Homo sapiens: one gene and its partners. The protein of the gene in region 3 binds, or shares a complex with, the protein of the main gene of each other region. Each region holds a gene or a part of one and is shown on either strand. Other genes may lie near its edges.

Evidence for each region.
Region 1: TUBGCP4 (region 3) and TUBGCP2 share a complex: the UniProt entries of both Homo sapiens proteins name them as parts of the gamma-tubulin ring complex.
Region 2: TUBGCP4 (region 3) and TUBG2 share a complex: the UniProt entries of both Homo sapiens proteins name them as parts of the gamma-tubulin ring complex.

Annotation. Positions count from the first base shown.
Region 1 is NC_000010.11:133,304,802-133,315,634, forward strand, and holds the start of TUBGCP2 (gamma-tubulin complex component 2), read right to left. Parts: upstream 4,072-10,833; 5' UTR 4,022-4,071; intron 1-4,021. Other genes in the region: ZNF511-PRAP1 readthrough, read left to right, coding at 4,143-4,295, 4,589-4,662, 4,975-5,176, 5,363-5,487, 6,915-7,040; ZNF511 (zinc finger protein 511), read left to right, coding at 4,143-4,295, 4,589-4,662, 4,975-5,176, 5,363-5,487, 6,915-7,040, 7,987-8,065. UniProt on the Homo sapiens protein: Component of the gamma-tubulin ring complex (gTuRC) which mediates microtubule nucleation.
Region 2 is NC_000017.11:42,652,688-42,663,450, reverse strand, and holds the start of TUBG2 (tubulin gamma-2 chain), read right to left. Parts: upstream 4,168-10,763; 5' UTR 3,948-4,167; coding exon 3,899-3,947; intron 3,618-3,898; coding exon 3,505-3,617; intron 3,303-3,504; coding exon 3,135-3,302; intron 2,813-3,134; coding exon 2,744-2,812; intron 2,251-2,743; coding exon of another isoform or gene 2,224-2,250; intron 479-2,223; coding exon 399-478; intron 75-398; coding exon 1-74. UniProt on the Homo sapiens protein: Tubulin is the major constituent of microtubules, protein filaments consisting of alpha- and beta-tubulin heterodimers. Gamma-tubulin is a key component of the gamma-tubulin ring complex (gTuRC) which mediates microtubule nucleation.
Region 3 is NC_000015.10:43,392,871-43,403,182, reverse strand, and holds part of TUBGCP4 (gamma-tubulin complex component 4), read right to left. Parts: intron 8,077-10,312; coding exon 8,026-8,076; intron 7,601-8,025; coding exon 7,495-7,600; intron 5,970-7,494; coding exon 5,862-5,969; intron 5,146-5,861; coding exon of another isoform or gene 5,143-5,145; coding exon 5,004-5,142; intron 4,072-5,003; coding exon of another isoform or gene 4,056-4,071; exon of another isoform or gene 4,009-4,055; intron 3,140-4,008; coding exon 2,962-3,139; intron 1,468-2,961; coding exon 1,333-1,467; intron 123-1,332; exon of another isoform or gene 1-122. UniProt on the Homo sapiens protein: Component of the gamma-tubulin ring complex (gTuRC) which mediates microtubule nucleation.

The DNA of each region.
Region 1 (10,833 bases), on a different chromosome or scaffold from region 3:
GGCCATACAGAGATAGGAGCTGAGGGGACATAGTGAGAAGTGACCAGAAGACAAGAATGTGAGCCTTCTGTCATGCCCGGACAGGGCCACCAGAGGGCTCCTTGGTCTAGCGGTGATGCCAGCGTCTGGGAAGATGCCCCTTGCCAAGCGGACCTTGGTCTAGCGGTAGTGTCAGTGTCAAGGAAAAACACCCGCTACTTAGCAGACCGGGAAAGGGAGTCTCCCTTTCCCCGGAGAGTTTAGAGAAGACTCTACGCCTCCAACTCTTGTGGAGGGCCTGACATCAGTCAGGCCCGCCCGCAGTTATCCGGAGGCCTGACTGTCTCCCTGTGATGCTGTGCTTCAGCGGTCACACTCCTGGTCTGCTCTCATGTTCCATCCCGTACACCTGGCTCCGCCCTCTAGATAGCAGTAGCAAAATTAGTGAAAGTATTAAAGTCTTTGATCTTTCTGAAAAGAACATAGAAGAAATAATGACATAAGCTGTCCTCTCTCTCTCCGCCTCGGCTACGTAACAGGGAAGGGCCCCATGTCTGGTGGACACATGACACACATGACCTTATCAATCATTGGAGATGACTCACACTCTTTACCCTGCCCCTTTTGCTTTGTATCCAATAAATAACAGCGCAGCCAGGCATTCGGGGCCACTACCGGTCTCTGCGTCTTGGTGGTAGTGGTTCCCCGGGCCCGCTGTCTTTTCTTTTATCTCTTTGTCTTGCGTCTTTATTTTTACAATCTCTCATCTCCGCACACGAGGAGAAAAACCCACCGACCCTGTGGGGCTGGTCCCTACAATAGAGTACAGAAGACTCAGCACATACTCCCACAATATGCTAATTCACTAACGATTATTAGCACGGGACTCGACACCGAGATTCTAATCCTGTGTGATGGAAGACAGTTTATCTGTAGATGAACATCAAATACTGGTCACAGGCAGGGTATCTCCGAAAATGGAAGGAGAGCGATAAGAAGGCATGGTGCTGAGTTGCTCACACACATGCTTTTGACCCAGGAGGTGCTCACGGTAACTACAGTTCAAGCACAAGGCCAGCAGGGCACGCGCCATGGAGCCCCATGCAGTCTGGACACTGACGTGGCTACTTCTAGGCTGTGGGACCCTGAACAAGGACACGTCCTCTCCAAGCTTCTTCTGAAAAGGGGAAGCCCTAGGTCCTGCGTAGAGCTGTGGTAGAGAGAAGTGAAATCACCCTGAGAAAGCACAGAAGGGCCCATACGTGGTAAGTTCTTACACTGTTGTTACCAGGAAAGCAGAAACAAACATGCGGCACCATTGCTCCCTGGAGGTGTTAACTCTGTTATCTGGGAAATGGTTAGGTTTACAAAAGGAAAATTGGGTCCCAATCACTGACAACATCTTAAACTACCAGATGCTTTTTTAACAGTCATGGGAGCCCTGGACGAGGCCCTGCAAACTACTTGTGAAGCAGAAAAGACAGCCCAAACTTTCCGGCCAGCGGCCCCTTCAAATCCAAGGGTGGCCTGTTTCACCCACATTCTACTCGGCTCCCCGAGGACTGCAGGTTGTCCTATAACTGCTGGTCTGAGAAACACTTTGGTCATGCTAGGTGGCAAGAAAACCATTTGCCACCAAAACAAAGCACTCCCCCACCAGACACAAGTCAGGAGAGAAAGCTACCTATGAAGAAAAATCATCTGAGTATTTATTTAAAAACTACATGCTGGGCACGGTGGCTCACGCCTGTAATCTCAGCACTTTGGGAAGCCAAGGTGGGCGGATCATGAGGTCAGGAGATCGAGACCATCCTGGCTAACATGGTGAAACCCCATCTCTACTAAAAATACAAAAAAATTAGCCGGGGGTGGTGGCGGGCGCTTGTAGTCGCAGATACTCCAGAGGCTGGGGCAGGAGAATGGCATGAACCCGAGAGGCGGAGCTTGCAGTGAGCCAAGATCACACCACTGCATTCCAGCCTGGGCAACAGAGCGAGACTCTGTCTCAAAAAATAATAATAAAAAAAATAAAAACTACCTTCAGGAAACTTCGTATCTCTTCTAGAAATAGAAGCACAGATGCCCGCACGTCATGAGTGTTCATCCCATGAGGAGCCTGCTGCTCTCCCTGAATGTGGGGACCGGGCCTCCAAGAGGGCAGCCCGTACTCGCACAGAGTCCCTCCCCCCAGAAGACCTTTGGAAAAGTCCTAGGGCAACTCTGGGGTGTCACGGTCATGGAAGGGTGCTCTCGCTACTTAGAGGGCAAGGGCGGGGGATGCTAATCATCAACAGAGCTGTCCCGCCAGAAATGCACAGCGTCCCACTGAAAACACAGCTCTGAGGAACATCTAGCCGTGGCTGCTTCTTGGAGGAACGTCTAGCCATGGCCGCTGACTTGGCCTTCTTGATGCTCCTGAATTCTTACTATTAATCACACAAACTGACAGGCCCAGCAACTGTGACTGGGAGGGACTGACGTCCTCCTCACAGAGGCTGTGAGCTACCGCAGGGACGCGTGCTGAGGGAAGCAATGCACGCATGTCACACTCCACCACGGACAAGCGGGGCACACACTCCTAGTGAGCACACACTCCAAGTGATTAAAACACAGAGGGACGTGAAAAAGAGTCTCTGTTGAGAGCTCAAAGCTAACTGTACAAATTGGTTTGAAAAATGTTATTTTACAACTTGTGGAAAATGTCAAGAGCCCAAAGGCTTTTACAGAGACAGAAAGTACAGTCATGCATCACTCAACATTCTGAGAAATGCCTGGCCAACATGGTGAAAACCAGTCTCTACCAAAAATACAAAAATTGGCCAAGCCTGGTGGCGCACACTTGTAATCCCAGCTACTTGGGAAGCTGAGGCACGAGAATCGCTTGAACCCAGCAGGCAGAGGTTGCAGTGAGCCCAGATCGCGCCACTGCACTCCAGCCTGAGCGACAGAGAGAGACACTATCTCCAAAAGAAAAAAAGAGAAACGTATGGTTACATGATTTCCTTCTGTGCGATCATCAGAGTCACTCGCAGACCTGGATGGTGTACGGCCTACAATGCACCTAAACCACCTAGAGGAGCCTCTTGCTCGTGGGCTACAAACCTGCCCAGCAGGTGGCGGTGCTGAACACTAGACAACTGTAACACAGAGATATTTGTGTATCTAAACATGGAAAAAGTACAGGGGCAGGCATGGTGGCTCACGCCTGCAGTTACAGCTCTTTGGAACGCTGAGGCAGCAGGACCACTTGAGCCCAAGAATTTGAGGCCGCAGCGATCTATCAGCTATGATCGCACCATTGCACTCCAGCCTGGGTGACAGACGAGAAAGCTAAAGCCTCTATCCGCCACTGGGCCCATTCTCTGCAGTAGATCTGAAGCGTCCACTGCTTCCCGCGTGTGTTGTCATTCACCATTTTAATTAGGTGACTCTTTACTCTGACGTCTGTCTCTCCTACAAGGCTGCCGCGCCCTCCTGTGATGCCTTCCCCCACACGCCCTGAGCACCTAGCACAGGTCCTGTGTTTCACGGGAGCTGCGGGGACTGGAGAGGTCGACAGGACCCCGACAAACCAGGAAAGGGCCTTTGAACTAAAGTAACGGGAAGTCACCCAAGGGCTTTAAATTAAAAACGGTTACAATAAAACTGGAGTCACTTTGGCTCCAGTTCGCGACTGGTTTAGAGGGAACAAGATCCAGGGACTGCAGCGGGAGACGACAGGCGGGGCAAGGCGGACGGGAGAGGGCGTGCGAGAGGGGGACCTGCGACCCGGCTTCCCAGGGCTGGGAGGGGACACCCGGGACGACCCGGAGGCCCGCTCCGCCCCGCCCCGGCTGAGTGTCGGGCCGCGGGGCAAGACGCTGGCCTGGCCGGTGCAGGCCCGAAGGGCTTCGGCCCCAGAGTTCGGGGACCGCTGCACAGCCAGAGGGAGCGCGCGGGAAGAGCCGCGTCCCGCCAGCCCCGTCGCCTCGTGGGCCCCCCCGGGCCTGGCAGTCCCCCAACCCCCTCATCACGCCCGCGCCCGCGTTCGGCCAGGACTCACCGCAGTCCCGGAGCCACAGCCCCCGCGCAGCCCCCGACGGCGGCGGAAGTGAGCGTGACGTCACGTCCGGCTCGGCTCGCGGACGGTGGCCGACAGGCTGCGCCCGCCCGCGCCCGGGGTGATGCAGTTGCCCCCCGCGCTGTGCGCCCGCCTCGCTGCGGGGCCCGGGGCGGCGGAGCCGCTGCCTGTAGAGCGGGATCCCGCGGCTGGGGCCGCGCCCTTTCGCTTCGTTGCGCGCCCCGTGCGCTTCCCGCGGGAGCACCAGTTCTTCGAGGTGCGTGAGCAAAAGAGGGAAAAAGTAGTTGTAGGATCCAGTGGGGCCTACGGCGGCGAGGCGGGGCCGGAGCCTGGAGTGGGAGGGGCCTACGACTGCGGGGCGGGGCCGGAGCCTGGGACAGGCGGGACCTGAGGTGGTGGGGCGGGGCCGGAACGTGGAGTGGGCGGGGCCTGAGGCTGTGGGGCGGGACCGGAGCGCGGGATGACTGGGGCCACGGGTGTGGGCGAGGCCTGACGCGGTGGGCGTGCCGCGAGTCACCTGGCCCCGCCCACGGCGCACTTTTCCTGCAGGATGGGGACGTGCAGCGCCACCTCTACCTCCAGGACGTGATCATGCAGGTGGCCGACGTGCCTGAGAAGCCCAGGTAAGCGAATGGGCAGTGCCTAGCCAGTGCTACTCCTGCGCCGCCTCCCTGACCGGTGCCTGGTCCCTGGGGCTGTGCTGCCGCTCTTCCATGTGCGGCCGCCCCACCGAGGCGCTGTGCCTGTCCAGCTTTGGCGTGGCCGACTCTTCCACCACCTAGCCTGTTTGTGAAACTTAATTCATAAAAAGAGGGTTTGGGATTGCAAAAGATGCATAGGGGCTTTATTGGACGTCTCAAAGGGAAACTGTGCAGAAAGTCCAGCTTGGTTCCTCGCACCGGAGGAAGGGCTCCTGAAGCACGTCTCCTTGGCAGGGTGCCCGCGTTTGCCTGCCAGGTGGCCGGCTGCTGCCAGGTGTTCGATGCCCTGGACGACTACGAGCACCACTACCACACGCTGCACGGAAATGTTTGCTCCTTTTGCAAGCGGGCCTTCCCTTCCGGACACCTGCTGGACGCCCACATCCTGGAGTGGCACGATTCGCTCTTCCAGATCCTGTCTGAGAGGCAGGACATGGTGGGTGACAACTGCACAGCCGCCGAGGCCACCCCCCATTGGTGATGGGCTCAGAGTGCTGCCCCCAGCTCTCGGGTGCTCGGGCAAGGCCGGGGACACCTTTCCGCCCTTGGCAGCTCTGCTACGGGGGCATGGCGGTGGGGGAGGGCCAGGGGTCAGAGGGAGGTGACACGGTCTCCATTTCAGTATCAGTGCTTGGTAGAAGGCTGCACAGAGAAGTTCAAGACCAGCAGAGACCGGAAGGATCACATGGTGAGGATGCACCTGTACCCCGCGGACTTCCGGTTTGATAAGCCAAAGAAAAGCAGAAGGTAGGGAGCCGCCAGGCTCAGCACGTGTCTGCTTTTGATTTTAGGAAAAGGTTTCCAACTAGCCGGAATGCATAGACGGTCAGACTTATTAAGCACTTGTGTGTCACCTAATGGGGTGTTCACCTGCAGGTACCTGAAGCCCTGGCAACACAGCTACAGGTGGTTGTGCCAGCGGCCACCCTGCCGAAGGGAGGCTGGAGGGGAGCCCCTGGCTGCCCAGCTCTGTGCCGGTGGAGGCAGCAGAGGGGGTGTGGGAATGAGCGGGCGCAGCGCCTCCGCACTCACACCCCTCTGGGCCATGCCTGTACCTCCTGCAGCAGTCGGCCGTGGTCATCCGCACTCACACCCCTCGGGGCCGTGTCTGTACCTCCTGCAGCCGTCGGCCGTGCTCACACATCATGCAGCCCTGGCTTTCCTTTTGTCCTGGTTGGTTGTGCGCATATGAACTTGATGACAAAGCTGTTGATTAACATGTTCCTGCCTAGAGTGCACTCTGGGAAATACTTCCAGGAACAATCTTTTTTTTTTTTTGAGACAGGGTCTTGCTCTGACACCCAGGCTGGAGTGTAGTGGTGTGATGTAGGTTCACTGCAACCTCCACTTCTCAGGCTCAAGCGATTCTCCCACTTCAGCCTCCTAAAGTGCTAGGACTACCAACACGCATCGCCGCACTCGGCAAAATTTTCTATTTTTTGTAGAGACAGGGTCTTGCTATGTTGCCCAGTCTGGTCGTGAACTCCTGGGCTCAAGCCGTCCATCTGCCTCAGCCTCCCAAAGTGCTGAGATTGTAGGTATGAGCTACCATGTCCAGCCGGAACAATTTTTAAATTGTGTTATATTTCTTCTTTTTTTAACTGATGAGGTGAACTTTCATAATCATCTACAATTTTATTGATCAGAGTTTTTCAGACTCTACATTTTCTCAAGTAGTAATTTGCTCTTTAAAATAAAAGAACTGGGAGAACCCACTGCAATGTGGGAGGCTTTACAAAGACTTACGTGTAAAGTAATTGTCTCCTTTCCGAGGGATCATTTTAAGGAGAAAAACCGTGCAATGCTGGATTAAGACATTCGTATTATGGAAGAGACTAGTTTATAGTCTCTGGTTAACTTTAGCAAATTTCTCACACTCATAAAAAGACCCGTGGCACCGTTGGCACCATAAAAATACTATTTTCAAAAAAAAGTATGATTGTTACAGTTAAGTTTATAAGATGCAGACTCTATTATATAAACAATGGCCTTGCTGTAATCATTCTCCTTTTCCCAGTATCTTAAACCACACTATAAAATCAGACTATGCCAAAATAGTAAGAAAATATGCTACTTACAGGGAAATCCAGTTTCTTTCTTGCATGTTCATTTCTGGGGAACACAGGGGCTGTGGGAGCCGTGCAGGGCAGTTACTCACTGCTCTCTCCCCGCAGCCCAGCCTCAGCAGAAGCCCCAGGGGACAGTGGAGAGCGGTCAGAAGGGGAGGCCATGGAAATCTGCTCTGAGCCTGTGGCAGCCTCCCCTGCACCGGCAGGTGAGAGGCGGATCTACAGACATAGGTCAGTGTCTGAGCTCTTTCTGAAACCCGTTCTCAACATGTGTTCGGTGCTGAGGATTCTGGGCTGCACCTGGGCCGCAGCTCTTCTCATACTGAATTCAGAAAGGTAACGCTGGGTAAGAAAATCGGCTTCCGCCAGAGAAGAAAGTCCAGATATCTCAGGTCCTGTGAATAACTTAGTTTCTCTCGCATACTCTGTTTTTGAGCCATTGAAGCGCAGGAATGCCAAGCACCACTCACTTTTCCTCATTGTCTGAGTGGGATGGAAAGAGTCTCACTTGCAGTTGCTTCAGTCACAACCCAGGCGTCTGCCTTAATAGCATCACCTGTGCCGTCTGCGTTTCTAGCGTCACCTGTGCCGTCTGCGTTTCTAGCGTCACCTGTGCCGTCTGCCTTCCTAGCATGACCTGTGCCGTCTGCCTTTCTAGCATGACCTGTACTGTCTGCCTTTCTAGCGTCACCTGTGCCGTCTGCCTTTCTAGTTAAAGTTGATTTTAAATTAATTTGGGAAAAACGGTGAACAAGTGGGGAAAAACATCACCAAAGACTCCAAACAGGTGGAACGATGAACTTAATGTTCCCTGCACCCTCCTTACAGATGCCTGGACTTTGGCCTGTGAATGAGCCCCGGGGGGCTGGGACAGTAGGGGTTTTCATGGAATGGACATGGGGTAGCAGGAAGTCTCAGCCCCAGAGGGCTTGGCAGGAGCCGCCCTCTCTGCGGAGTTCTTCCCAGCGGGTGTGCGTTGGTGGCTGGCGGGGACCCCCCACAGGAACTAGGTCTCAGGCTGTGGAAAGGGAGCTGCCCCAGGGCCCAGGAGGGCCGGCTCTGCATTCCGCATGTTCCCAGAGTGAAAGAGAATGAGAAGGAGACACACAAGTGCTGTTATGACCTGGGTTGTTGGTTGGCAAATACAGCATCTAATAGAAACTTTCTTCCATCCCAGAATACCCTCTACCATCTGCTTTGGTCAGGGTGCCGCTCGAGGATTTAAAAGCAACAAGAAGAAAACCAAACAATGCTGATAGACTCAGAAAAGGAGTGGGGGGCAGTCACCACTGCTGGGCGTGGCATCCGCCTTGGGCCTTTCTCCGACCTTCTGGTGTGGCCGCCCTGGGGGCCAGGCCCTCGCCATCCTCCCCATCCTTGTTCCTCAGCAAATGGCATTAGCAGCTGTCATCAGAAGCTGTGAGGGACCCACAGATTTTGGAAACGACCTGGACACACTATTGGGAAGGAGATGTGGACGGCCTGTCTCCTCCTGCAGGGCCCACCCTAAGAATGTATTTTTAAACACATGAAATAAGTATTTTTCACTGATGGTCTTGAGTCTTCATTTCTGTGTTGAGTCAGGTGCGGAGTGGTTATTGTTACCCATGGGTATTCTGTTTTCCACCCTCAGTTTTCAGGAAGATTTATAAAGTCCTGGCACCCCTCAGAGGTGGGTGATGGGGTAGGATACAGCACTCCACCTCGTCCCGGACCTCCTGGCTTTGGGAGCCACACCCAGTTGTCCTTGCCACACCACTTAGGGAGTAGACCTGGTGGGGGTAGGATCTGATGCCCACAGGGAGGGGCACTGGCTCTGGGGGCATGGGGTGCTTGGGGGTGTGTGGGATGCTGGGGGAGTGGGGGGTGCTGCCCCAGAGGGTGCAGGATCCATCACTAGTGCCAGCGGGGACCACAGAGCCTGCATCAGGAAATGCAGGCCAGGAGATTGGGGCTGGCATTGGATTGCAGAGATACACTGGGGGCAGTGTGTCCTGGAGAAATCACTCTGTTTTGATAAAATTAGGGCGCTCAGAGACTCCCGACCACGTCTTCCTCCAGCGGCCCTGTTCCCACAGCATGTGATATAGGCGGCAAGCCACCCAGGTGCCAAGGCAAGAGAACGAGGGCACGAGCTGTTCCAGTATAACAAATATATAAAATAACAGGAGTTATACTAGATATATGTCATAGATATGATTATATATGTATCACTAATCATTAGTTTGTAGTAATTATTCTTTATTCCAATATTATAATAATCCTCACTCTACAATCATAACCTAGGAAAAACCAGGCCATACGGAAATAGGAGCTGAGGGGACATAGTGAGAAGTGACCAGAAGACAAGAGTGTGAGCCTTCTGTCATGCCCGGACAGGGCCACCAGAGGGCTCCTTGGTCTAGCGGTGACGCCAGCGTCTGGGAAGATGCCCGTCGCCAAGCGGACCGTAGTCTAGTGGTAACGTCAGTGCAAAGGAAAAGCACCTGCTACTTAGCAGACTGGGAGAGGGAGTCTCCCTTTCCCTGGGGGAGTTTAGAGAAGACTCTACTCCTCCACCTCTTGTGGAAGGCCTGATATCAGTCAGGCCCGCCCGCAGCCATCTGGAGGCCTAACCGTCTCCCTGTGATGCTGTGCTTCAGTGGTCACACTCCTAGTCCGCTTTCATGTTCCATTCTGTACACCTGGCTCTGCACTTTAGATAGCAGTAGCAAAATTAGTGAAAGTACTAAAAGTCTCTGATATGCAGAAGTAATGGCGTAAGCTGCCTCTCTCTCTCTGCCTCTCTGCCTTGGCTGCCAAATGACGAAGGGCCCCCTGTCCAGTGGACACGTGACACACGTGACCTTACCTATCATTGGAGATGACTCACACTCTTTACCCTGCCCCCTTGTCTTCTATCCAATAAAAGTGCAGCCTGGCATTCTGGGCCGCTACCGGTCTCCGCGTCTTGGTGGTAGTGGTCCCCCGGGCCCAGCTGTCTTTTATCTCTTTGTCTTGCGTCTTTATTTCTACGATCTCTTGTCTCTGCACACGGGGAGAAAAACACACAGACCCTGTGGGGCTGGTCCCTTCATGTGACTGGTGTGCTCCTGGCCCCCTGCCCCTGGCATTGCCTCACAGCCCACTCCTTTTGGGGCTCTGGGTCTGGCTGGAGGCAGTGGGTGGTCATCTGCAGCTGCTGCCCAGCTCCACAGGATGATGCTGAGAGCTCTCCAGCAACCTGGAGTCAAGGAATCTCAAGGGCCTCAGGTTCAGAGCTGACATGGCACAGTGCTTCGTGCTCTGAAAACTGAAGGCAGGTTCCCAAGCACTCAAGGGAAGACACTAAAGCCTGAAGCCCAGGCCTGGGTGCATCAGTGAAGAGAGGTTTCACACGCACATGTGTGGGGTGGGAGATGAGCACTGGCCGAGGGTGGCTGTGGTGGGGCCGCCCGGGGCCTGTCGGCTGCTTGAGAAAGCACAACACAAGAAAAATGCAAACACGCAGATTTACTGCTGGTTCTCCATCTCCCTGAGAAGATCCTGCCCCAGCCCGTTGAATCCTCTGGCTCTTGCGTGAGCTCCCTGCACAAGGCCAGCAGCACAGCCCTGGCGGCAGCGCTCCACGAGGATGTATTAGCCCTTTCCACAACAGCAGATTCTGCTAAAACTCTTTTGTTCACAGCAGGACTGTTCTATACCCTTCGGGGACTGTTGGTCCTGGCTTCCAATCCTAGCTTCATCTCTGCCTGGAAGCGATTTGTTTATTCTGTCTCAGTTTTTCTTCTGACAAGTGGGGAGTGTAAAACTTCGGTATGAAGAATGTTACTGTTTTGTTTCAAAGCCAGCATCATAACTGTACGTGGGCTGCATCCGTTTCTAAGAAGATACTCATGTTTCTTTTCTTTCTTTCTTCTTTTTTTTTTTTTTTTTTTTTTTTTTTTTTTTTGAGGCAGGCTCGCTCTTCTTGCCCAGGCTGGAGTGCAGTGGCATCATCCTGGCTCACTGCAACCTCTGCCCCCTGAGTTCAAGCGATTCTCCT
Region 2 (10,763 bases), on a different chromosome or scaffold from region 3:
GCTGAACCACTACGTCGCTCATCTCGTCCTGGTAGGGAAACACTGAATAAGTCTGCACTAGCTTCTTGGGGTACCTGAGAGAAAAGAGGATGGTGGCATAGTGAACCGGAAGGACCCCTCCATCACTGCCCATATGTGCCATTTTGTACAAAAGGGGTGAGGGCAGAACTGAGTCTTCAGAGCCAAAAAGGATAAGCCTGAAAGCTTCAAACTCTGTAGATCCCCTCCCCTCCACAGGTAAACCCCCACCCCCCAAAATAGCTTCCAACATGGTCCTTGGGTGGGTCTGTCCCTATGACTCAAAAGGGGTAGTGGCAGACTTTCTAGCTCAAGAGAAAAAAGCAATGACATTACTCAGGGAACCAGGGTTAATGCCCTCTCCCCAAACACAGGCTTGCCTGTCATTCAGTCGCTCCAGGAGGTAGGAGCCCAGGCCAGAACCCGTACCCCCAGCGATGGAGTGACACAGCACGAAGCCCTGTGTGTATACAGGAATAAACAGACTCAGTTTCTCCTGCCACACTCTCACAACACAATTCTGATACCAGATGGGTGGGGTCTTACCACACACATCAGGTAAGCAGTCAATTCTACAGTAGATGCCAGCTGGGTATCCACTAATTCACTTCAATTCTGGACTACCTACAGACTGTCCCTGACTTAGGATGGTTTAATTTAAGATGTTTTGGCTTTATGATGGGTTTATCAGGACATAATCCCATCTTAAATCAAGAAGCATCTGAATTACAATGGTTCAATTTACAATTTTTCAACTTCATGATGGGCTTATTGGGTTATAACCTGATGCATTTCTACTTACGGTATTTTCAATTTTTTTTTTTTTTGAGACGGAGTCTTGCTCTGTCACCCAAGCTGTAGTGCAATGGCCCGATCTTGGCTCACTGCAACCTCTACCTCCTAGGTTCGAGCCATTCTCCTGCCTCAGCCTCTCAAGTAGCTGGGACTACGGGCATGTACCACCACGCCTGGCTAATTTTTTTATTTTTCGTAGATACGGGGTTTCACCATGTTGGCCAGGCTGGTCTTGAACTCCTGACCTCAAGTGATCTGCCCGCCTCGGCCTGCCAAAGTGTTGGGATTACAAGCATGAGCTACCGCACCTGTCCTCAAATTTGTTTTGGTTTTAGAGACAGGATCTCACTCAGTCCCCCAGACTGCAGTGCAGTGGTGTGATCATAGCTCACTGCAGCCTTGAATTCCTGGGCTCAAGGCATCTTCCTATCTCAGCCTCCAAGTAGCTTGGACTATAGGCATGTACCACCATGCCTGGATAATGTTTGTATATTTTGCAGAGATGGGGTTTCACCATGTTGCCCAGGCTGGTTTTGAACTCCTGGGCTCGGATGATCCACCTGCTTCGGCCTCCCAAAGTGCTGGGATTACAGGCATGAGCCACTGTGCCTAGTCAATATTTTCAATTTGTGATGTGTTTACATCCTGATAAACCCATTGTAAGTTGAGGAGTATCTGTACCTGAAGATAGCATCAGATCCCACAGAGTGAAGGCTCAGTCCCACAAGACTCTCCCACTTCCAATGCCAACACAAGCTTCAGGTTGTTTTATCTGTGCCTCTGACCAACCAGCTATAAATCGAGGTTCTCAGGACTGCTCCTTGGGTTCAATTAATTTGTTAGAGTAGCTCACAGAACTCAAGGAGACACTTACTTACGTTCATCCATTTGTTATAAAGGATATTTTAAAGGATACAAATAAACAGCCAGATGAAGAGATACCGAGGGGAAGCTCTAGAAGGGTCCGGCGCATAGGAGTTGCTGCCCTGTGGCGTTGGGTTTGCACCCTCCTGGCCTGTGGATGTGTTCTTGTTCACCTTCCTGGAAGCCCCCAAACTCAGTCCTTTTGGATTTTTATGGAGGCTTCATTACACAGGCATGACCGATTAAATCATTGGCAATTGGTGCTCTACTCAATCTTCATCCCCTCTCCCTTCCCCAGAGGTGAGGGGTGGGCCTGTAAATTCCAACCCTCAGAGCACCAGGTTTGTTCCCCTGGCAACCAGCCCCCCATCCAGTGGCTATCTGGGACTTTCCAAAAATCGCCTCTTTAACATAAGCTCAGGTTTGGTTGAAAGGCACTTGTTCCTCCTTAGTACAGTGGTTAGTAAAATTAACTAATTAAAATAAAATGAAAGATTAAACTAAAAGAAACGGGCTTGTTATAAATAACAAAAGACTGTCTTTCACCTTTATCACTCTGGAGCTGTTCTGGAGCTGTTTCAGAAACCAAGGACAAAAGGTCAAATATTTTAACAAAACATACTATTATTGCTCTAGTCCCTTAGGAAATTACATGGGTTATAAGAGCTGTAAGCCAGGAACATATCGCACCCAGCATGGGGAGAGATGGAGAGGCAGTCTCCAAGGATCTGGGGGAGAGACTTCGGCTTGGTTCATTCTCCATTCCCAAAACGCCAATGTCTCAAAGCTTCCTCTTATGCATCCAGGCTGAGGCTCCTTGGGAAGGTTTGGAGCTGGAGAAGCAGCTGAATGACTCATGCCTAAGGGGCCGGTGCCATTCAGATTTATGACTTCCTTGAGAACAAAGATTATATCTTATTCACCTCAATATCCCACATCTGATGCTCCATAAACGGGTTTTGAATTGAATTGCTCCCCTCATATTACCTATCCAGGCCACCTCCTGACCTGTCCCCAGCACTCTTCGGCCTCCCTGCCCATTCCTTCCCCCACTCCATAACTTCACCTCCAAACTGTCACTTCCATCTGCTTCTCGGTCTATGATGTCAAAGATGTCTTCATGAATTTTCTCACCCTGTATAGAGATATGGAAAGGGAGGGTCAGGCCAAAGGTTCCAGAGAGCATCTTTTCTCAGCACAGCACCAAGAATTCTGTCTACCCTGGAATATTGTTGCCACCCTGAAGCAGAGCCTAGGCTGTAGCCCTCAACCCAGAAGTGCTACTATTGCAAATGATTTGCACAAAATTTGCATAAACCTCTCCCTGGCTGTCCCTCTTGTTCGGGACATCCTTTTGTCTCTTATTTTCTGTCAGTCAGGTCAAATTCCTAGTAGCTTGAGCCTGCCTTGCCTCTGGATGGGAATATCAAAGGTCTCTGGAATGGTCGCTAGGACACCTGGGAGAATCCGCTGGCCCAGTTGTTGCCAGCTCCTCCTCCATGTTCCGACAGGTAGATGTTCTCTGGGTTGTAGAGCTTGGCATAGGGGGAGTTGAGGATGGAGTGGATCACCCGGGGTTCCAAGTCCAGCAGCACGGCCCGGGGGATGTAGTGCTCATCGTCTGCCTGTCAAGGGGAGTCCAGGAGGGGGCCCAATCAGCTAGGGCGGCCCAAGTCCGAAGTCCTCCCAACTCTGGCTCCCTCCGGCCCTCCCTCCTCAAGCCAGCCGCCTGGCCCTACTGCCCAGCGGGGTTCCCAGTACCAGGCCACTCCCTTCCCTTCCGCCCCCTTGGGCCACTGCCGCCCCCGGCCAAGTCGCTGGGGGCACCTGGTAGAAAAAGACGTCCTTGCGGTCAGTGCCCTCGGTGGCGAATTCCTCCACGATGCCCTCGGGGCTGATACCATGCTCGGCGCACAGCTGTTTCCAGAACTCGAACCCAACTGGGGGAGGGGGGAGATGCCCGGGTCTGCTGGAGCCTTAAGGCCTGAGGAGCCCAGTTTTAGTCTCAGAGGCTGACACGATCAGAGGGTGGACCCAAGATGCCTGGGTTTGGTAGCTGCCCCAGCCCCGGGCTGGAGGCGCAGCTCTCGGTCTGGGTTATCCAGAGCAGCAGGGCAGGGGGTTCATGGAAGGGAAAGGGGGACTGGTGGAAGCCAGGCACTTGGGTGGGACCCGAAGGGGCAGAACCAGAGACCGGCGGGGCCGGCGCTCGCTTGCTCACTCTGGTTGCCGCACTGGCCCAGCTGCAGGGTGATGATCTCCCGGGGCATCGCTCTTCAGACGTGGGCGCGCCAGCCCCGGCCTGGCGAGAGTCACGGCTGAGACGAATGCCCGGCAGCCAGGAGCGCAGGACGTGGGGAGCGCGCGCTCTCTTCGCCTCTTGACGCGGATGCTCGGTCTGCGCGTGTGCAGCGCAGGCCTCTCCTCGGCCGGTGGGCCGGGGAGCCCAACCTGGGCATCATTTTCTCCCTCAGCAGTCGCAGCTGGAATTCCGCACAGGCGCAGAGTCAGGCCACGCCCGCTCCTGCCCACCGCTCCGCGCCTGCGCAGTGAGACTCGTTGGGGGTGGCAGGGTCGGAACCTGGATGTGTTGGGGAGGAGAGGAACGGGGGAGGGGAGGAAAGGGGAGAAGCGGCCAGGTGGATGTGCTTGTCCACGTGTAAGGAGTCATCTACCTATATTGGTAGGTGAGGACACTGTCAGCTTTGCTAGATCAAAGGGCTAGAAGCCAACTTTTCTTCGTTTAAATTTCTGTTTTTTAATGGTGTTACAATACATACACATGTATGTTACCTTTTTATTTTTTAGAAGGGTCTCGCTCTGTCGCCCAGGCTGGAGTGCAGTGGCGCGATCATAGCTCACTGTAGCCTTGAACTTCTGGCTTAAGTGATCCTCCCACTTCAGTCTCCCGAGTAGCTGGGACTACAGGCGTGTGCTACCACGCCCAGCTAATTTTTAAATTTTTAAAATGTATTTTTATAGAGATGGGGATCTCACCGTGTTGCCCAAGATGGTCTTAAACTACTGGCCTCAATCAATCCTCCTGCCTTGGCCTCCCAAAATGCTGGGATTACAGGCATGAGCCACCACTCCTGGCCTAAATTTACCATTGTAACCATTTGTAAGTACTGCATACAGTTCTGTGGCACCAAGTACACTCACATTGTTCTGTAACCACCACCACCATTCTTTTCTAGAACTTTCTTATCTTCCCAAACTGAAACTCTATCGCGATTAAACAGTAACTTCCCCTTGACTACTCTAGGCACCTGATATGAGTGGAATTATACAGTATTTGTCTTTTTGGGTCTGGCTTCTTTCACTTAACATAATATCTTCAAGATCCTTCCATTTCGTAGCATGTGTCAGAATTTCCTTCCTTTTTACAACTGAATAATATTCCATTGTATAGATGTACCACATTTTGCATAACCATTCATCCCTCCATGGACATTTGGGTTGCTTCCACCTTTTGGCTATTGTGAATGTTGCTGCTTTGAATGTGAGTGTACAAATATCTGTTCGAGTCCCTGCTTTCAATTATTTTGGATATACACCCAGAGGTAGAATTGCTGGATCATATGGTAATTGTGTTTAATGTTCTGAGGAATCGCCATACGATTTTCCATGGTAGCTGCACCATTTTAAATTCCCACCAGCAATGCACAAGGGTTCAGTTAAATAAATTTTATAGGAGGCCATTGATTTGCACTGAGCTCCTGTGCTTGGCTCAACAGACCAAACCAAAATGGAGTCACTCACGCTAAAGTTCTATGTCACTAAGCAACACTAAGTTGTTTATCAAACCTTCAGAGGAATCAGGAGAGGGAAGGAAGAGCCAAAACCCCAAACAAGCCAGTGTGAGCCGGCATGATACGGAAGTCCTTTTACAAGAAAAGTAACTTTGAAAGGACCCATCTGCTTTTTTTCCTTCTGTTTCTATTTTTCTCTACCCTTTTTTGTCCATAAAAACTAACCTGTGCTTGACTCATCTGAACACTCATTCTATTTATTTTATGGAATGAAACGTAGCCTGATCTAGAATCACAAACACTGTAAATGCCACTTAAGATTTTTTTTTTTTTTTGAGACTAAGTCTCACTCTGTTGCCCAGGTTGGAGTGCAGTGGCATGATCTCGGCTCACTACAACCTCTGCCTCTCTCAGGTTCAAGCGATTCTCCTGGCTCAGCCTCCCTAGTAGCTGAGATTACAGGTGTGCACCACCACACCCGGCTAATTTTTTTGTATTTTCAGTAGAGACAGGGGTTTTGTCATGTTGCCCGGACTGGTCTCGAACCCCTGAGCTCAGGTAATCCACCTGCCTCAGCCTCCCAAAGTGCTGGGTTACAGGCATGAGCCACCATGCTCAGCCAAGTAGCCAAGTTACAATCTTTTTTTTTTTTTTTTTTTAGATGGAGTTTCGCTCTCGTTGCCCAGGCTGGAGTGCAATGGCTCGATCTCAACTCACCGCAAGCTCCACCTCCCGGGTTCAAGCGATTCTCCTGCCTCAGCCTCCCAAGTAGCTAGGATTACAGGCATGCACCATCACGCCCAGCTAATTTTGTATTTTTAGTAGAGACGGGGTTTCTCCATGTTGGTCGACCTCATGTGATCCACCTGCCTTGGCCTCCCAAAGTGCTGTGGGATTACAGGCGTGAGCCACCACGCCCAGCCTTTTTTTTTTTTTTTTTTTTTTGAGACGTAGTCGCACTCTGTAGCCCAGGCTGGAGTGCAATGGCTTGATCTCAGCTCAGTGCAACCTCTGCCTCCCAGGTTCAAGCAATTCTCCTGCTTCAGCTTCCCAAGTACCTGGGATTATAGGCACGCTCCACCATACCCTGCTAATTTTTGTATTTTTAGTAGAGACGGGGTTTCATCATGTTGGCCAGGCTGGTCTCAAACTCCTGACCTTGTGATCCCTTCCAAATGTTGGGATTACAGGCGTAAGCCACCGCACCCAGCCTCTGAGACTTTTTATGCAGCCTTGGAATCCTGGGCTCAAGCGATCCTTCCACCTCAGCCTCCTGAGTAACTGGGACCACAGGCACATGCCACCATGCCAGCTAATTTTTTTTTTGAGACAGAGTCTCTTTCTGTTGCCCAGGCTGGAGTGCACTGGCATGATTTTGGCTCACTGCAACCTCCACTTCCCGGGTTCAAGTGATTCTCTTGCCTTGGCCTCTTGAGTAGCTGGGATTACAGGCATGAGCCACCACGCCCGGCTAACTTTTGTATTTTTAGTAGAGACAGGGTTTCACCATGTTGGCCCGGCTGGTCTTGAACTCCTGACCTCAGGTGATCCACGCGCCTCGGCCTCCCAAAGTGCTGGGATTACAGGTGTGAGCCACCATGCCCGACCTTTACAGTGACTTTTCTACATTCCACCAGGCTGGCTGTTCCCTCAGGAATAATCTCCTGTGTGTCTGAATCATATATACCCAACTGTGACTAGAATGGTGAACTGTGAGTCCTGCATCAACCCAAACATGCTCTTCCACTCTGCATACTGCCCCTAAATTAGTCACTCTCAGAATCCATTTTAGTAAATGTTCCTCAGGAAGCTGATGATACTGATCTATGAAATGGAACAATTCCTCCACACTCTACTGTCTGGTTTCGATAATTACTTGGTTCCTTCACATTGACTACCTTCTTGGTAACCACAGGTCTCAGAGGTACTTTCTGTTGTCCCTGCATAATTTCCTCCTTTGTGGGTGACTCCGAGGCTAGTGGCCTGAGCTCAGCCAGACCCACATCTGTGCTTGGTCCAGCCTCAATTCCTAACCCAGCACCCTCTTTTACTTTCATTTTAGCCATTATAGATAACAATAATCAGGGGGCTGAATATTTCACATTTTTCTTATTAGTTTGCATTTCCTTATGCATTCAATGAACCAATTCCTGGGAGTTGGATCCATCTCTAAATTCCACTAGTAAGTTTTACCTTTAGTAACTGATCTCAACAGAGTTGTGGCTTCACACCATGGTGACCACGTGGTCACCCAGGAATTGACGACCTCTTCCTCCACCCTTTTATCCTTTTTCTTCCCAAACCACATGTTTATGTGAGTCAGGGCCATTCCTGCAAATCCCACTTCACTGACACCAATTGTTTAGAGAAAACTGTAACCATTTCCTCTACTCTCACACCACAGCAATCATCCACACAGATTTCTGTGACCATACACATGGGGCTTTTGTTCCCCACCCAGCAGTGGACACCAGCTGGGTGTCCTTTAATTCAGTTCTAACACCATCTACCCAGAGACAGTGTCAGACCTCATAGGTTGAGGGCTTAGTCCCCAAGACTGCCTCCCTGCCCCGCACCAGTCCCAAGTCTGGGCCTCCAGAACTTCTGACCAGCAGGCTTTAAGTTGGGGTTCTCATGACCCCCTCTTTGGGTCCAATTGATTTGTGGGAGCAGCTCACAGAACTCGGGGAAACACTGACAATTACTGGTTTATTAGAAACCATATTGCAGGCCTAGTGTGGTGGCTCATGCCTATAATCCAAGCACTTTGGGAGGCCAAGGCAAGTGCATCGCTTGAGGTCAGGACTTCGAGACCAGCCTGGCCAACATGGTGAAACCGTCTCTACTAAAAAAAAAAAAATTAGCCAGGTGTGGTTGGTGGGTGTCTGTAATCCCAGCTACAAGGGAGGCTAAGGCAATGAGAATCGCTTGAACCCTAGAGGTGGAGGTTGCAGTGGGCCGAGATGGCGCCACTGCACTCCAGCCTGGGTGAAAGAGCAAGATTCCATTTGAAAAAAAAAAAAAAAAAGCCAGCATATCGCAAAGGATACAGATGAAGAGACACGGAGGGTAAGGTATGAGGGCAGGGGTGTGGAGCTTCCATGCCCTCTCTGGGTGCTCCACCCTCCAGGAACCTCCAGGTGTTCAGGCATCTGGAAGCTCACTGAACCCTGTCCTCTTGGGTTTTCATGGAAGCTTTATGGGAGGGTCTTAAGGCCCACAGTCAGAAAGGCCCAGGAAGGTTAGAGTGAAAGGAGTGCAGGAGAAGGTCAGATACTGCCCCTGAGGGCTAACACACTCAATATTATAACAAAAGACTAACAAGGACTATGAGAGTCATGAGCCAGGAGCTGTGGACGAAAACCAATATGTATCATAACACCATACCATCTTTAAAAAAAAAAATAGAGATGGGAGTCTCGCTGTGTTGCCCAGGCTCATCTCGGACTCCTGGGCTTCCTGGGCACAGTGGAACAGCCTGTAATCCCAGCACTTTGGGAGGCCGAGGCGGGAGAATCGTTTGAGGCCAGGAGTTTGAGACCAGCCTGGGCAGTATAGTGAGACCTCATCTCTGCAAAAAAAATTGTTTTAATTAGCCAAGTGTGGTGGTGGTGCCTTTAGCCCCACCCAGCTCCTTGGGAGGCGGAGGTTGCAGTGAGCAGAGATCCCGCTGCCACTGCACTCCAGCCTGGGCAAGAGCAAGATGCCTTGTCTCAAGAAAACAAAAACAAAAACAAAAACTCCCGGGCTCAAGCGGTCCTCCCTCCTCCGCCGCCCAAAGTGCTGGGGTTACAGGCGTGAGTCCCTGCGCCCGGTCCATACCATCTTTTCCTTTATGTTTTGCACGTTTTATACTTTGTTAGAGAAAACATCCCCTATCCCAGTGTCATACAGCTATCTTTCCGTTTTCTTCCCAAAGCTCTGTAATAGCGTTGCTTGTTCCCTGTAGGTCTCTAGTTCATCTGGAATTTATTTGGAGGCCTGCCGTCAGATAGGATCTACTTTATCTTTTCCGTATGGATGGCCAATTGTCTCCAAACCAATTACTGAAGAGGCGGTGCAGCCTCCCCCACCCCCTGGGGCGTTCCAAGTCTTCGCTGGGAAGACCTTTCCGTCGGTCTGTCAGTCTGTCCCTGCCTGGCGGGCTTTCTCTGGGAACCGCTGCAGACGCGCTGGCGAAAGCACCACCGCCAAGAGTCATGCTCAGACGAGAGATTTTGTTTTCTTCTCTCTCTCTCTCTTTTTTTTTAAAGAACTCGGCCGCTTTCCAGTCCCCAGAATCCTCTGGGCTTCTTGAGAAGTCTCTGGCTCGCCCCACGCCCGCCCTCTACCCGGCCTCGGCTCAGTTTCCCTCCCCGCACCCCGCAGAGCCTCTCAGCTTCCTCCAGCTCTGGTCGGGAGGATCTCCAGCGTCCCCCAAGAGGACCCAGTAGTCTCGCCCTTTCAGGGAAGGGTTCTTTTCTCCCTCTGAAGTTGAAGGGTAGGGTGGGAGCTCCTTCGTTAGCCTTGAGGCTCCCTTCCCCCAACAGAACCGCTCCTTAGGGGCTGGCTGTTTTCAGAGGCTTTGCCAGGACTGTCTCCCAGTCGGCCCAGGTGAAGCGCATGGCTTCAAGAGATGAGAATAAACTGACCCCCGGCCACGTGAGTCTGGTAGGGCTTTTACATAGTAAGCTAATGCCGGGCGCGGTGGCGCCATCTTGTAGTCCCAGGTACTTGGGAGGCCCAGGCGAGAGGATTGGTTGAGCAGAAGAGTTTGAGCCCAGACTGGGCAACATAGCGAGACCCCCATCTCTAAAAATAATAATAATAATTAGCCGGGTATGGGGGCTCACGCCTGTAATCCCAGCACTTTGGGAGGCCGAGGCGGGCGGATCACTTGAGGTCGGGAGTTCGAGACCAGCCTGGCTAACATGGTGAAACCCCCGTCTCTACTAAAAAGACAAAAATGAGCCGGGTGGTGGCACATGCCTGTAGTTACAGCTGCTTGGGAGGCTGAGTCAGGAGAATCGCTTGAACCTGGGAGGCAGAGGTTGTAGTGAGCCGAGATCTCGTCACCGCACTCCAGCCTGAGCGACAGAGTAAGACTCCGTCTCAAAAAAATAAAATAGGCCGGGTGCGGTGGCTCACGCCTGTTATCCCAGCACTTTGGGAGGCCGAGGTGGATGGATCACCTGAGGTCAGGAGTTCGAGACCAGCCTGGCCAATGTGATGAAACCCTATCTCTACTAAAAATACAAAAATTAGCTGGACATGTGATGGTGGCCTGTAATCCCAGCTACTTGGGAGGATGAGACAGGAGAATCGCTTGAACCCGGGAGGCAAAGGTTGCAGTGA
Region 3 (10,312 bases):
TATATGTCTTGTTTTTCCAACTAGATTGTGAGCTCCTTAAGGGCAGAGCCATGAATTATACCTCTTTGTATCCCCAGTGCCTTGCATACAGTAAGCACTCAATAAATATTTAATGATGATGACCTGCTCTGTTATTCTGCTTTTCCCTATGGATACATCTATGCCACATAAGGACAGCATCTACCCATCACAGTAGTTCTTGGTTGTTTTCAGCCAGCCCTCTGGAGTGGCATCTATTAATATATATCTTACTCTTCCTGGTACAGCAGAAATAGCCCTAAACACCAGAACATTTTTAAAAAGTCTGTAACAGCTGTGCTGTAGCACACTGAGGAATAACAACCAGCTCATGTCAGAGGAGGCATAACCGTTCCATTAGAAACTACCAGAGATCATTTCAGTCTTCCTGTTCTTTATCCTGGAATTGGAACTAGCTTGTGAGCTTTAAAAAAAATTAGTACCTGGGTCCCACTATTACAGGGATTCTAATTTAAGTGCTCTGTCACCTAGATTTTTTTAAAGAGTCCCGATGATTCCAATGTGCAGCCAAAGTTGAAAATAACTGCCACGAAGGAGACATATATGTACTTACAGAAACACATACATAGATCGAGAGAGAAACACTACTCTAGTTGTCTATGAAAAGAACTTTCAAATGACTGATCCATCCTGGTCCAAAAGATTTCTAAGAAGGTGAACTCTATATGCTTTTCATTGGTTTTTCTGTATTGTCAGCAAGAATTTTGAGTTTCTTTAACTCCTGAGGGTTTAAGCACATAATTCTTTCATCTGTAGCTGCTCACCACACCCTGTATTTCAGAAATTCAAAGACATCTTAGGTCCCGTTTAACATGCCTTTTTAGTTTTGCTTTACACATTCTTTTTTTTTTTATCTGCTCCCCCAAGACAGAATCTTGCTCTGTTGCCCAGGCTGGAGTGCAGTGGAATGATCTTGGCTCACTGCAACCTCTGCCTCCTGGGTCCAAGCAATTCTCCTGCCTCAGGCCTCCCAAGTAGCTGGGATTACAGGCGCGAGCCACCACACCTATTATTTTTTTTTTCTTCTGTATTTTTAGTAGAGACGGGTTTTCACCATGTTGGCCAGGCTGGTCTTGAACTCCTGACCTTGTGATCCGCCCACCTCGGCCTCCCAAAGTGCTGGGATTACAGGCATGAGCCACCATGCCCCGCCGCTTTACACATTCTTAAAAAATGTTTTAAAATGGACTTGAATAATTGCTTAATGATGGTTTCGTATCCTGTCAACTCAAACTGCCTAAGGGAATGGTCAGTGGTAGAAGCAGTCTGAGGAAACCAATGAGCCTTACTTACAGGTTTCAATAGGATAAAGGATTGAGCCAGCAAATTGCTCAGGAAGTGGTCATGAGCCAATCGGATGCTTTCAAAGTCTCGGGTAGAATTGATCTGATGAAGCAGCTGGGAGAACTGAGACTCCAACACATCTACCTGATAGACATTACAAAAAATTTTAGCACTTTGCATATTCTAAGCACTCGAAGACATTAAGATGCCTGACAGATTGAAATGAAAATGCTTTGCCTCCACTCATCTTCCTTCTAACCAAGTCACATTAAGGCTGACCAAAGACACCCTTATATTGCCCAGCCTTGTAGGAAGTTATTTGCATAATTCTGAACCCCCTCCCTCCAACGTCCTGGCTGACCACTCTCCCCTGCCCCATCCTTTTCTCTTTTTCCTTTTTTTTTTTTTGAGACGGAGTCTTGCTCTGCCACCCAGGCTGGAGTGCAGTGGTGCGATCCTGGCTCACTGCAACTTCCACATACCAGGGTTCAAGCAATTCTCCTGCCTCAGCCTCCTGAGTAGCTAAGATTACAGGTGCCCGCTACCACGCATGGCTAATTTTTGTATTTTTAGTAGAGAAGGGGTTTCACTATGTTGGCCAGGTTGGTCTCGAACTCCTGACCTCAGGTGATCTGTTTGGCTCAGCCTCCCAAAGTGCTGGGATTACAGGTGTGAGCCACTGCGCCCAGCCTCCCCTGCCCCATCCTAATCCACTCATGGCCACATTCCGTCTACTGACTGACTTGGTCACCTACAGGATTCCAGAAGTTATAGCAAACAATAAAAATAAGGGGCAAGTCAACAATAAATAATAGATTGTTGATGAGGATTCTTTAAAATGCCTTTAAGAGGCTGGTGTGGCGGTGGTTCATGCCTATAATCCCAGCACTTTGGGAGGCAAAGGCAGGAGGATCATTTGAAGCCTGGAGTTTTTTTTTTTTGGAGACGGAGTCTCACTCTGTTGCCCAGGCTGGAGTGCAATGGCATGATCTTGGCTCACTGCAACCTCCACCTCCCAGGTTCAAGCGATTCTCCTGCCTCAGCCTCCCAGGTAGCTGGGACTACAAACAGGCGCCACCACGCTTGGCTAATTTTTTTGTATTTTTAGTAGAGATGGTGTTTCACCATGCTGGCCAGGCTGGTCTCAAACTCCTGACCTCAAGTGATCCGCCCATCTCAGCCTCCCAAAGTGCTGAGATTACAGACGTGACCCATGACACCTCGCTGAAGCCAGGAGTTTGAGACCAGCCTGGGCAACAAAGTGAGAATCCATCTCTACAAAAAATAAAAACAAACCAGCTGGGTGTGGTGGCATGTATCTGTAGTCATAGCTACTTGAGAGGCTGAGGCAGGGGGATCACTTGAGTCCAGGAGCTTGAGGCTTCAGTGAGCTATGACTGTACCACTGCATTCCAGCCTGGGAAACAGAGAAAGACCCTGTCTCTAAAAAATAATAAAATAAAATAAAATAAAATGCTTTTTTTATTTTAAGAAACATGCTTGGTGATATAACTCCTGAATTTTCCCAAACCCCACCATTTTATCAAATAGAAACTTGTAGTCCCTATTCAATACTCCCTGCCAACCTCCTAGACGTTTTTCCGTACCCCTTCCTTCTACTCATCTCTTAGCACAGACCTGGAGATAGTACTGAAGATTATCCACCAAAAATGCCATGTGATTTCTTAGGCGCCACTTGATTGCATCAGTCTGGTTCGACTTGAGGTGCTTGCGCTGCATTTGTAGGGCCCAGCAGTGCTGCAGCTCAGCTTGCACCCGGCGCACACTCAGTAAGTACTTAAAAACAACATTGTACCTAGGACAGAAATAACAGGATATTCAAGACAAAAATTTCATCCCCTGCACTTCCCCCACACGACAGACTCTAGGACTTTGTGCCACCCACTCCTCTCACAAACAGGCAGTAAGGAAAGAGTGACTAGAGATGTAGACAAATAAATTATAATTTATTTATACAATGGAATATTATATAGCAGTCGAATGAACTCCAGCTATACAACAAGATGAGACCCCATCTCTGCATTTTTTAGATAACTTGGGAAATTTCAGTGTGGACTGGATATTAGATTATACCCTTATAATCTTTTTGAATGGTTGACTCGTGTTGCTTCTCATATTCAAAAACATGATTTTTGAATGAAAAAGGTAAATCACAAAAGATTACATATAGCCTTTTCTATAATTCTTAAAGCAGGCCAGGTGTGTTGGCTCATGCCTATAATCCCGGCACTTTGGGAGGCCAAGGCAGGAGAATTACTTAAGCTCAGGGGTTCAAGACCAGCCTGAGCAACATAGTGAGATGCCATCTCTACTAAAAATTAAAAAAATTAGCCAGGTGTGGTGGTGCCCACCTATAGTCCCAGCTGCTTGGGAGGTTGAGGCAGGAAGATTGCTTGAACCCAGGGTTCAAGGCTGCAGTGTGCTGCCTGGGCAACAGAGCAAGACCCTGTCTCAAAAAAAATAGTGTGTTATGAATCAAGGATTATGATGAATCTGATTCTCTGTCGCTGAGAGCCGAAAGAAAGTAAAATAGCTTCCCTCTGAGACAGACTCCCGCTCCTGCCTCCCTGCAAGTTCAGGTGCTAACTGCTTAATGCTGAGACTCCATACTTAAAAGACACACGGGAAGAACAGCTGATTCCTGGTAGAATAGGATTTATTTACCTGTTTGTAGGTAGGCTTGCAGAAGACAGTCCCATTCTGTTTGGTTTTTAAAATTGTCTATTTCTAAAGGAACAAACATAATGAAATGATAGACCTTGTTTGGAAACTGATTTGAACAAACCCAAACATAAAGATAATTTTTAGATAACTGGAGAAATTTCAATGTAGACTGGATATTATAAGGGATTATAAGGGACTACTGTTAATTTTACTGGATGTGATAATGGCATTGTAGTTCTGTTGAAATATGCCTTTTTCAATTGTTTATTGGCAGAATGAAATGACTGTGATTTGCTTTATACAGCTCTAGCAAAAAAGTGGGGGAGGGACAGATAAAAGTAGTATAATGTTGCTGGTTACTGAAGGTGAATAATGAGGACACAGGATTTTGTCTTCTCCCCAGTGGCTAACATCCATAGCAGACATGTAGGCTGGAGGACTTTCCCAAGTAAATCAACAAAAAATATTACAAAAGTGAGGGAGAGACCTTGTCAGGTGTGATGGAATCATCAAGGGCCATTATCTCGACATGGTGCCTAAGACCTTATTTTCCAGAGCTCACAAACTGGCAGCCAACAAACTGCTTATTATTTGGCAATTTAAAAAAATGATGGTTTGAAGTAGATATGCCCTCCCACTGATTCCAACTCCGTGTCTCATATCTGTGGCTTCACTTATTAATGTGATCAGTCTAGCCCCTGAAGGCATAAGGGTTTACAATTTTTGATTTACAGATTGTTAAAAACTAGTTGGGTGGCTCTCTTGCTCCCATTAATTTTTTTTTTTTTTTTTATGAGATGGGGGTCTTACTATGTTGCCCAGGATGGATTTGAAATCCTGGGCTTAAGGGATCCTCCTGCTCAGGCTCTGGACTAGCTGGGATTACAGGTGTGTGCCACCACACCTTGCTTTCCCACTAATTCTGTTCCTGCTAGTTTCTTCCCTTACAAGTAAGGTGGGTCATATTTACCTGTGAGAAACTCAGAAATACTCACTTTTCCAGGACAGCTGGGGTGAAGAGAATATGTAGTGGCCACTGTACTTTGTAGGAAAGACCTAGGGCTGCCCAGCCAGATGCAGGGGCTTCCCGGGGAGAAGTTTCCCGAGAAGGCCCTTCTCTTGCCTGAGTAGCATCTGCTGTGATAAAAGAAAAGAAAAAAAGAAAAGATAACAACTTGGTTAATCTAGAACCAGAGACTCAACAAGTGAATAACATTAATGAAACTAGAGCTCACAGGAGTTCAAGACCAGTCTGGGCAATACAGTGAAACCCCATCTCTACTAAAAATACATAAATTAGCTGGGCATGGTGGCACGCACTTGTAGTCCCAGCTACTCAGGGGGGCTGAGGCATGAGAATTGTTTGAACCTGGAAGGCAGAGGTTGTAGTGAGCCAAGATTGTGCCACTGCACTCCAGCCTGGTCAACAGAGTGAGACTCTGTCTCCAAAAGAAAAGCAACAGAGCTCAATGGAGTCTGCGATGTCAGAAGCTTACAGGGGACACTAAGAAGGGGGCAAGGAAACTTCTATGTGAGGTTCTCTTGGGAGGTCTTCTAGAGATTCTTTCCTCAGCCTTAAAATCTGGGGGCTGGAAATAAACAGGCACCATTCCAGCAGCATGACAAAAAAAAACACCAAAAAAACCAACTCCCCCAAAACATGGCCTGGGCATCTCACTTAGCCTCTCTGGACTTCTGGACTTTCCTTTTCTTCTCTATAGAATTATAGTACTGTACTAGCTGATTTCTAAGATCCAAAATCATATGGTTTCTGTGGCGGGGGATGGAAGCAGAGATGGGAAAATGGATGATGACCAGCAGGAACTCTAAGGTGGCAGGGAGGAATGGCAAACCTTTGTGCTCCTTTCCGTGATACTCGATTGTCAAGTGCAACAGAGGGAGAAGGTTGTCATCATCTAGCAATACCTTGTGTGCTGACTGTTGAAAGGCCACATTCACATCTGCAAGAAAGAACACGCAGGCTGACAGGGACGCTTGGCTACATAACAAACCCAGACTCCTCCAGCTTTCCACTTCTCCCCCAACATGCTCAATGCTAACAGCAGGACACAGTGGACATCTGTTTCATTTGTCTAACACCCATCCATCCTTCTCTTCTTGCTGACAAACTGCCTCTTGATTTTCCTTGGAGAATCATCCCTATTCAGTACAGTTCACATATTTCCAGTGGGTTAGTGCTAGACAACACCTGATTCTAGGGGTAGCTGGGTGATGTAGGCATGATCAAATGGAATGTAATACTCTACTTTGTTATGCTATATTGTTTAGGGATATTAACATGACCAAGCCAGGCCAATCCAGAGGCTCTATTCAGACTCTAAAAGAGTCCAGCTCTTTTTTCAAGATAAACAGGGGCTTAGTAGGATGTAAACTTGGCTAGAGACTATCTTGCTACCATACAGAGCAGGCCTGTCTGAGAAGAAAGAGGTAGAAGATGGAAAGAGACCAAGTCCTAAAGGTGCCACACCTGTCACTGGATCAAACTTAGCCGAAAACCATCATACGTCTGAGCTTTTCAGTTATGAGAATCAATACATTATTTCTTTCCTTTTGCTTTGCTTAAGTGAGTTTGAATTGGATTTTCTGATATTTGCAACCACAAGTACTTATATTTGTACTATATAAGTACAGTGGACATCTATGGTTTTACTGAGTTAGAAAAATGATCAGCCTGTGTGTATGTATTTTCTTTCTCACAGTTTCTTTTTTTGGATCCTTACCCAACTCTACTCATGCAGTATGAATGGGAATGGACATCAGTGGGTCAAGGGGTAGACTCTTCACTGAACTAGGCATAGCCTAGTGTCTGACCTCTTTGACTGATACAGGGATAGGGATGTGATGTGGGCTGGGCCAATCAAAACCTAGATAATTCCCTAGAATTCTCTAACTTGCAACAAGAGGGACTGGGTTCAGTTCCTTCCGTAGAGGACACTGTGAGGCATATTCCTGGGAGATGCTGTGATCATGTTTCCAGAAGGTCATCAAAGTGTTCACAAGAGACACAAACAAGATGTGGTGAATGAGTGAATGAGAGAGAGAGAGAATGAATCGAAGTTTTCCCACTGGGGTTTTAGATACAATAGCAAATCCATTTCCCTTTCCTAACTAGGCTAGTTCGGGTGAGTTTCCATCATTCACACCTAAAGAATTCTACTGCAAAACTACAAGCAGCACTAAGTCCCAATATGGCCCATAAAGTATATATGGCTATAATCCAATGAGAAAAAATACCTGGTTTGAAGGCCTGAACCAACTCTTCCAGGAAGGGTCACAGGCCAAGACACTGTTCCCAATGACCCCAGCATGAAGCCTACCTGCAAGAGCCTTCCATCTCTGGAAGCCACTGCTCTGTAACTCATCAGGCTGCTCTTATGTGGAGCAGGCCTTAAAAGGGTCAGCAGCAGCCAAGAAATACCCTGCAATGTCAATCAGTTGATCATTCTCAGGGCCACTGACAATTACCATGCTCAGTTACTGCAGTGGGTGGTGTTTTCAACATGTGTTGAGCTGTGTCAATGAAGGCCTGAAACAGTTCTCCACGTCCCAGAAGGTAAAAGTCTTTAATGATCTGAGGAAAGAATTTCAATTTACAATTCAGTAAAGCAAGGCAGGAGCTCCTCACTGTCCTGAGGAATTACATGTATACAGTAATTTCTAATTTCATCAATTTGAGCCCAAGCTACAAAAGATACAGGCATTTGGCATTTCAAAGAGGCATACTTAGTTCCGCATAGCAGGATGACTGGTGTGTATTTGGCATTATTTATTCAATAGCAACATAATTATATATATATGCCAGAAAAAAGTACACTCCCAAATCTTTGTATTATCGTAGATTTGTGGCATTAGGTATAGTTTGCTCACTTGGATAAGAACAAATGAGTTGACTCTGGAAGTCTGGGTATAGGCAACCAGTGCTCTCAGGAAACATCAGAGAATGCAAGTCACTGCCTACCAGCATCACCGTAAGAATTACAACAGCTAAGCCATTACCTTCAGCTGACCCAGTAAATCGGATTCTTCTACCATCAACTTCCAGAGATGCTATGAAAACAACCAACAAAACAGGGACAAATTTCATTACAGTGAGAACTCCTGCAAAGAATGGTTCCATACAAATCCAGCAATGTATTAAAAGAAGACTATACCTTGCCCCACATAGAAAAATTTACTCAAAACAATCAATGTATTATTCCATTCTCACACTGCTGTAAAGAATACCTTAGACTGGGTAATTAATGAAGAAAAGAGGTTGAGTTGCTCACAGTTCTGCAGGCTGCACAGGAAGCACGGTGGCTTCAGCTTGGCTTCTAGGGAGGCCTCAGGAAACTTACAATCATGGCAGAAGGCAAAGGCGTCTCACATGGCAGGAATAGGAGCAAGAGAGAGCAAGGGGGAGGTGCTGCACACATTTAAACAGCCAGATCTCATGAGAACTTACTATCGTGAGGACAGTACCAAGGGGAATGGCGCTAAACCATTCATGAGAAACTGCTCCACGAACCAATCATCTCCCACCACGCCCCTACAACTCAAGAAATTTTGGCGGGGACACAGGTCCAAGCATATCAATCATAGACCTGGGTATAAAACTGAAAACTATAAAATTTCTGGAAGAAAAGAGAAGAGAAAATCTTAGTATCCTTGAGTTAGGCAGAGTTCTTAGACATAACACCAAAAACATGATCCATAAAAGAAAAACAAAAGGTAAACTGGATTTCATCAAAATTAACAACTTCTGGGACAAGTCATAAATTGTGAGAAAATAGCCCAGGCGTGGTGGCTCATGCCTGTAAATCCCAGGACTTAAGGAGGCTGAGGTGGGCGGATCACAAGGTTAGGAGTTCGAGACCATCCTGGCTAACACGCTGAAACCCCATTTCTACTAAAAGTACAAAAATTAGCCAGGCATGGTGGCAGGCGCCTGTAGTCCCAGCTACTTGGGAGGCAGACACAGAAGAATCACTTGAACCCAGGAGGCAGAGCTTGCAGTGAGCCGAGATTGCACCACTGCACTCCAGCCTGGGCAACAGGGCAAGACTCTGTCTCAAAAAAAAAAAAAAAAAATAGTGAGAAAATATTTGTAAGTCACATATCTGTTAAAGAACTTAAATTCAGAATACATAAAGGACTCTCAAAATTCGACAACAAGAAAACAAAAACCCAGTATAAAATAGGCAAAGAGGCACATGAAAAAATGTTCAACCTCATTAGTCATTACAGGCATGCAAATGAAAAAGACAGTGGGGAATCCCAGCATTTTGGGAGGCCAAGGTGGGCAGAGCACAAGGTCAAGAGATCGAAACCACATTTTGTTAATCGTAAATGTGGCACATATACACCATGGAATACTATGCAGCCATAAAAAATGGTGAGTTCATGTCCTTTGTAGGGACATGGATGAAACTGGAAACCATCATTCTCAGCAAACTCTCACAAGGACAAAAAACCAAACACCGCATGTTCTCACTCATAGGTGGGAATTGAACAATGAGAACACACGGACACAGGAAGGGGAACATCACACACCGGGGACTGTTGTAGGGTGGGGGGACCGGGGAGGGATAGCATTAGGAGATATACCTAATGCTAAATAACGAGTTAATGGGTGCAGCACACCAACATGGCACATGTATACATATGTAACAAACCTGCACATTGTGCACATGTACCCTAAAACTTAAAGTATAATAATAATAAAATTAAAAAAAAAAGAGATCGAAACCATCCTGGCCAACATGGTGAAACCCCATCTCTACTAAAAATACAAAAAACTGGCTGGGCGTGGTGGCGGGTGCCTGTAATCCCAGCTGCTCGGGAGGCTGAGGCAGGGGAATCGCTTGAACCCGGGAGACGGAGGTTGCAGTAAGCAGAGACCGCGCCACTGCACTCCAACCTGGAGACAGAGCAAGACTCCGTCTTAAAAAAAAAAAAAAAAGACATTGGGAAGCCACCCAAATATTTATCAAGGATGAATGGATAAACACACTGGTATAAACAATAGAATACTAGTAAGTAATATAAAGGAATAAACCATTGATAAATGCAACATGGGTTCATCTCAAAATAATTATGCTGAGTAAAAGAAGCCTGGTCTCCTCCTCCAAAAGAGTGCATACTGTATGATTTCATTTTTATCAACTCTAGAAAGTGCAGACTAACCTAGAGTGACAGGGAGTAGATCAGATCAGTGGCTGCTTGGGGACTGTCAGGGTAGGAAGAGTGGGATGAAAGCACACAGAAAGGTTGCAGATAAAGGATGGAAGAGTGTATCAGGTAA